Homo sapiens: one gene and its partner. The protein of the gene in region 1 purifies or fractionates together with the protein of each later gene. This does not show direct contact. Each region holds a gene or a part of one and is shown in the gene's direction. Other genes may lie near its edges.

What was found. The genes of interacting proteins can lie anywhere in the genome.
Region 2: the proteins of RIMOC1 (region 1) and NPTN purify together in Homo sapiens (co-immunoprecipitation; one large-scale study listed by IntAct). This does not show direct contact.

The regions. Positions count from the first base shown.
Region 1 is NC_000005.10:41,907,225-41,910,878, forward strand, and holds part of RIMOC1 (RAB7A-interacting MON1-CCZ1 complex subunit 1), read left to right. Parts: intron 1-511; coding exon 512-618; intron 619-2,521; coding exon 2,522-2,668; intron 2,669-3,654. UniProt on the Homo sapiens protein: Plays an important role in the removal of damaged mitochondria via mitophagy by controlling the stability and localization of RAB7A.
Region 2 is NC_000015.10:73,570,819-73,574,472, reverse strand, and holds part of NPTN (neuroplastin isoform b precursor), read left to right. Parts: intron 1-677; coding exon 678-811; intron 812-3,654. UniProt on the Homo sapiens protein: Probable homophilic and heterophilic cell adhesion molecule involved in long term potentiation at hippocampal excitatory synapses through activation of p38MAPK. May also regulate neurite outgrowth by activating the FGFR1 signaling pathway.

The DNA.
Region 1 (3,654 bases):
TTTAATTGTAGTAGATATAAACAATTATAAAATTGCTCATAATGCTGGCATTTTGTAAGGAATTTGATTTGGTCAATCATGGTCTTTTGAATAACATTTGCAACTACATTTATGAAATCTTAAGTTTTCAGTGGAAGCCCTTTCTGTATATTTATGTATATTATTTGTATATTCCAGTAAGTTTTAAATTTGTTTAATTATTTTGAGTGCATTATCATAAAAGAAGCATAATGAGAATACAGACTGCATTTAAGAAATGGCAAGAGTGACTCTAGAAAGTTTTCAGTATTTTGCTTTGTAGGAAAAATTTTCATGATAAATTTACTTAATTAGGATTAGGCATTATGAGATATTTCATGTTTTAGATAAGATATTATTACTATAATTCTGTTTCTCCATATGTCATAATATTATTTCATCTTGTCATTTCATCTTCATACATAATGTGTTTTTTGTTTAAATAACACTCTGAAACTAGGTGAAGTAATCCTCATGTTTTTATTTCTTATAGATCACTTTTTAATTCGGGCCTCTGCAGCATTAGAAAAATTGAAACTCCTGTGTGGAGAAGAGAAAGAATGTTCAAATCCATCAAATCTTCTAGAACTTTACACACAGGTACTGAAAGAGTGGTGGACTCTGGCATTTTATGAGGGCAGGTTGTTTATTTAGATGATTGACTCCAACTTTAGGTAAAATGAAATCAGTTTATTCTATATTTCAAGTGTTTAATTTTGTCCAAAAAACTATGAATAAAACACAAAAACTTAAAACTTTGAGGTAGTATGAAAAGAAGTAAGATTTATTAGATGTGTTAATAAGAAAAGTCAGGAAGAAAATCTTACAGATAACGGAATTGTTTTCCTTTAGAGATAATTGAACAGGACACTAGTGTGTGCAATGTCCAATCTCTTGAAAGTTTCAGAGGGAGCAGGGGAGTATATAAGGGCCCTGACTTTTTTTTTTTCCCCTGAAATTTACCTTCCCTAGGATTCTCAATATTATTCTCCCTGCTAGTGTCATGCATATCTATGTGATTTTTCTATTCACCCACTTTTTTTTTTAACTTTCCTTTCCAAATCAGGCTGCTGTGTGGACAACACCTTTTTTTCTTGGTTTTCTGAAACACTGCTGAGGCATGCTAACATCAAGAAATGTAATTTTATTATGGTAACTAACATCTATATAGCACTTTGTAGTTGATAGAGTGTTTTCATGTGCCCTTTTTGGATTGCTAAGGGATAATAAAACTGAAGTGGTTACAGAAAGTACAGTACACTTAGTTAGGCTTCCAAAGTGCCCATTTATAGCATTTAAATGCTTGGTGCTGTTCTTCCTGTTAGGAAATTTCTAAAGATAGCTTCTGCCTTCAAACACCATGGATGAGTAAGCCTAACAGCTACTCACAAACCACAGAGAACTGTTTTAAGTTTGGCAGGTATTTTGCTTGGTTTTCTTTCTGTTCAGAAGACTCTGTGCTTGTCTGTATGTGTTTTATGTCATCTCATTTTTTTCACGAGAGTGTTCCAGACATTTTAACTTACTGGAATAAGGCAAAAGACCTAGAGATACAGATTTCAATTTTAAGATCCTCTTAAACCCTATTGATGGTTCTGAATCAACAGATCACCTTTCATATGATGATGAAATCATATATGATGATCTCTCCTTACTGGCTTAGGCCTTTCGCACGATAACATTTACTCCTCATGTTCACAGAAAGTAAAGCACTAACTGGGTGCTAGGTAACGTTTCTAGTACCTTACATATGTTAATTAATTTTTTACTCCAACAAGGAACTTTGAAAGGTATTTTAGTCCAATTTATCATTTAGCCAATTAAGAAACTGAGGCTCAAAAAAGGTAAAATTGACTTGTCTTTGGTTAGTTAAGTGATTAGTGGTAGAACTGACCCTAGAACCCAGTTTCCTTAGTCTTAGTTCAATAGATTAAAAAAGGAAAAAGGATTGGGGAGTTTTAATATGCTTTAACAGCATCTCTAATAATTAGGAATACTGGGGGCTTAGTGTTTGAGTTGCATATGTTGATGGTATGCTTCCTCTATTGGGTGGCAGGATACATACGCCCCTCACGCTGGCTCTGTATTTGGGAACACAAATCCTTTGAAGGTTCAAAACTGGAAGTAGTGACCTTAACTTGATACAGCAGGCATTTAGAAAATTTTCAGGGGTTATATAAGTAGTAGAATATAATAATTACCTTTTTCATAATTATATATGATTAAATTCTGTAAATTAAAACAAAGCTCTATTTTCTTTTTTGAGGGAAAGAAAGATTATCATTAATTCAGCACTTTAGTGAAATACCTATGAAGTTTTCTTTAAAATCTTTCTCAAATTATATTTACATCTAGACATTTTGCCTACTTCTCAAATTTACATACTGAGCTAGAAGATTTAAATGTGTAATAAAGCACCTATGTGTGCAAGGTTAGACTGTAAGAATTGTTTTTTTTCAATTTTAAGTCATTGATAGATATCTTTCTTTTTTTTTTTTTTTAGGCTATTTTGGACATGACATATTTTGAGGAGAACAAGCTAGTAGATGAAGATTTTCCTGAAGACTCTTCTTCACAGAAAGTAAAAGAGCTGATTAGTTTTCTTTCAGAACCAGAAATTTTAGTAAAGGAAAATAATATGCATCCAAAAGTAAGTTTTACATTCCTGTTAATTATGATGGAATATTGCTGGTACTTGCTGTCCTGCTTTTTGGAGTCTATATTTTTTTCTTCTTGATTGTATCTTTGTTTCTTAAATTAAGATTGGAAGAGGGAGATAAAAGAGCTTAACACTTCAGACCAATGTTGCAACAAAAGTATCATATTTTACTAAATGTATTTCAGAATATTTGCATAATAGAATTGTAATAGCTGTGCCTAATCATTTTTTTTAATATAGATATTCCCATTTCGACCCCCTTTACTTTTGCAGATGCTGTTTTCTTGAAGGTCACTATTAATCTAATTACCACGTCTGTTCTTACAGTCCTTATTCTCTCGAACATTTGCTCCCCTTCTTAATGTTGATCACCCCCTCCCTCTGAGACCCTGCATGCTTCTTTTCCACTTCTTCATCTCTGAAATGTCTTCTCTTGCTAGCAACTGTTCTGCCTTCCATTCTAGAAACACAGGTACTAGCCAGGGATGTCTCTTTCATCACCGATAGTCTCTATTCTGTCTTTGCTTGATAACCTGTTCACAGGCTTTGTACTGTCATCTCTATTTGGATAATCCTATGATTTGTATATCTAGTCCTGGATACTCTTTGAAGCAAATAATTTCTCATCTTTAACTGCCTGCTGACTGTTTACTTAGATATATTTTTTTTCTCTATTTATTTATCAGGGGAGGCTGTGGAAACATCTCCAAATTTCAATGACAAGCCACTTTAAAAATTTTGATTTATTAAAATTATTTTTGGGTGTAAATTTTCATTATTTTATTCCAGCGGTAGTAGAAATAGATATGATCTCACTTCAAGTAATGTATTTGTGAAAAGTTACCTTTTTAATGAGATGATGACTGCTTATATTGCAAACCTGTTAGGGGAATTTGCTAGTAAAAATATTTTTTAAATTATTTTGTAAAACTACTAGTAAATTGAAGTTATTTTAATTTTCATGTATTAATAGAATT
Region 2 (3,654 bases), on another chromosome or scaffold:
CTCCAGCCTGGACGATAGAATAAGACCCCATCTCAATCAGTCATTCAATTAAAAAAAAAATCTCTTGGGACACTGGTTGAATTTCCTGTTCATTCCTTTCTTCCTCCTTGTGAAGACCAGTTTCTGGATTCCCTCTTTCCTGGGAGAGCCTTGGTCATTGTTACTTATTGAGTAGCTTCTCCAAGCATTCATTGTTTTTACATACCTTGTAATAGGACTTGATTGTAGTTGTTTTATCTCAGAATCTCATTTCCTTAAGGGAATGTGTGATATTTGACAGGATGCATAACTGTTGTTCATGCAGGTGTTTTAAGAAAAAACTTGGGCCGATAGAAGAGATAATAGTGTTTGTTTGCATTTTCTTTAAAGGTAGGCTTAATTGAGGGCAGTTGGACCTGCATCCTTTTCCAGTAGGTTGGAGAATCACCTACATTAGTAGAGCCTCATATATTAGTAACCCTGGTATCTGCCTGGGCATCTTTAGCGGGTGGGGGGTAGAGGATGGGTTTGGTCCCTTTACCCTATTCTGACCTGAAATGCTCTTCATCAAAGCTGAGTATGACAGTAAGCATAAAGACTGACTACATTACAAGCAGGGCTCTGAGCCAGAAGGTGGGGCCTTTGTATCCTGTTTGGAGTAGACTTCCGTGGTAACTGCGTCTAACGCTTTCTCACAGCCGCTCCTGACATCACTGGCCATAAACGGAGTGAGAACAAGAATGAAGGGCAGGATGCCACTATGTATTGCAAGTCAGTTGGCTACCCCCACCCAGACTGGATATGGCGCAAGAAGGAGAACGGGATGCCCATGGTGAGTAGGAGGCAGGCCCGGGTCTCTGGTTGCTGGAGTTTTCCCTGCAGAGGTCCAGACACGTGGGTCAGTTACTGTAGTAGCTGTATCCTCGGATGTGTGCATGGCGAGGGTCACCCTTTCTAGAGTCACGGTTTACAGCATGAATCAAGAGGTCATTGACAGTCTCTTCCAGCACAAAAATCCCTGTACGTGATTTGTTAAAGCTGTCCCTCTGGTAAGAGATTAGATTGCTCACTGTATTAGTCCATTCTCACTTTGCTCTAAAGAACTTCCAGAGACTGGGTAATTTATAAAGAAAAAAGGTTTAATTGGCTCATGATTCCACAGGCTTTACAGGAAGCATTGCCGGGGAGGCCTCAGGAAACACAGGAAAGATGATCTTTCCTATCTTAGACAACAGAGTGACATCTGGCCTGCTTTGAGTTTTATTGCTTTCAGATTACTGTAACTGAAGGTGAGGCATTGACAGGTAATATAGTTAAGATAAAGCTAAATCCAAAGAATTAGCCTCCCCCTCAGGCTTCTTTGATCCTTGAAACTTACCTATTTTTTAGACTGCAGTTGCTGTTTATTTCTTCTTAAGTGATCCCTGTAAGTAGAGAAACTTAGAATCATGGTGGAAGGTGAAGGGGAAGCAGGCAGGTCCTAGGTGGCTGGAGAGGAGGAAGAGAGTGAAGGAGGGAGATGCTACACACTTTTAAACAACCGGGTCTCATGAGAATTCACTGTCAGGAGAACAGCAAAGGGGATATCCGCCCCCATGATCCTGTCACCTCCCACAAGGCCCCTCCTCCAACACTGGGGATTATAATTCACCATGAAATTGGGGTGAAGACAAAATCCAAACCATATCACTTGCCTTCAGGATAGGACACTGAAAGAACCGAGCCTAATTCTCGTCCATTTATCCTGAAGAAAATACTGTTTTTGAAGTGGTCTTAGAGAACCTGCCTTGTTTTTTTAGTAGGAAACAAGGTACTGAGGGCAATTATTAGTACATTCCTGCAACACAGAACATACTGATAAGGAATTGGGGCAACCTGAGGAGGCCCAAGGTACTGAGGGCAATTACTAGTACATTCCTGCAACACAGAACATACTGATAAGGAATCGGGGCAACCTGAGGAGGCCCAAGGGCAGCCTTGGCAGCCTTAGACATTGGGAACCTGACGGTATTTGCCCCAGAAAATGTCAAAGAGAACATCTTTTCCGATCAGTGGGATGATTCATGATGTTGTTTGGAGAGTCAGAGCTTTAGAACCTCACTTTCTCTCTCATTATGATTGTTGACCCATTACCTTTTCTGTCAGAGAGCGTGTCAAGCGTTCCTCTGATCCCATGGATCCTCTTTGATTATCAGTCTTCAGAATCCAAAAGGACCTTAAAGATCATTAATCCATCTTCTTTGGAAGGGTTCCATAGTAGCCAAGATAAATTAGTGGCAAAACCAAGAGTTGTATCTAGTTTTTTTAAATTTCAAGTCCATTATTCTTCCTACTTCATGACATCTTGATAATAAAATGTTGAGTTGTGATAATGACTCCAACATCAGCGATGATTTCAGAGACCCGTTAACGAGGAGCAGGATGAGGATTGCCGAGGTGAAGATGCTGAGTCTTTTTTACAAGACACTGAACTTTCTAAGGCACTGGAGAGGAAATGTCCACTTCTCTCTGCTGGTCACTGGGAAGGAGTGCCCTTGAGCTTTTGCCAAAGCAGGTTGGAATTAACGCAGTATGTGTTTTAATCTGAAAGATGAAGCTTGAGGCATCACAGACTAGCTGTTTTAAAAGCTTACGAGTTCCCCATTTCAGATGTACCTGCACTCAAATGCTGACAAGATTGTATGCCATATCTAGAATCATTTCCAGGATAATATTCCCCTTTTTCTCTCCTATTTCTGATTGTGCTTTAGTTGTTGCAGGGTAAAGACACATGAGTCTGTTTTTTCCCTGCCGGGATCTCATGAGCTGAGTGCAGTGAGCCATCCCGCTGAGTCCCGACCTCTGCCTGTGCACTCTTGCACCTCTGCCTTCACACCCATGCGAATCCCTGCCTGCACTGCTCCTCCCTGTTTGATCAGCTGTCCTCCTCCACAGTCTAGTGCAAATGTTAGCTCATGTGTGAAGCTTTCCCTGACTCTTTCCAGCAGTGGCCACTCACTGTGCCCTACAGCACTCTATACACACGCTCTGTTGGGGCTTCTTAACACATTCCTGAAATCAGTCATCCCTTTTTGGATGTCTGGTTCCCTTTTGAGGCCAAGCTCCTTATTCATTTCTAGGTCTGTCTTCTCCCTATCTCACCTTCTCACTCCCACCTGCCCTTAGTAGGATATAAAGCATGCAGCATATTTTAGTAAATATTTGTTCTCTTTTATTTGTTTGTTTTGTTTTGTGTTAAGACAGGGTCTTGATCTGTCTACCAGGCTGGAGTGCAGCAACCTCCTGGGCTCATGTGATCCTCCTGCCTCAGCCTTCTGTGTAGCTGGGACCACAGGTGTACACCACTATGCTCAGCTAATTTTATTTTTGATTTTTTGTAGAGATGGGGTCTCAGTTTGTTGCCAAGGCCAGTCTTGAACTCCTGGGCTCAAGCGATCCTCCCACCTTAGCTTCCTAAAGTGCTGAGATTACAGGCATGAGCCTCTGTGCCCAGCCACAAATATTTGTTGATTGATTGAATAACCTTTCCTCTAACCTCTAGTCCTTAAATGAAAGGAAAGTTATGAATTTCCCCCAGTCTGACTAGGAGTGAGTTCTTAGCATTGTTTGTGGAGGAAGTTTAAGGAGACTTCCTCAGAACTCACCAAGTGTGAAGTCAGTGTGCTGACTCTGAGG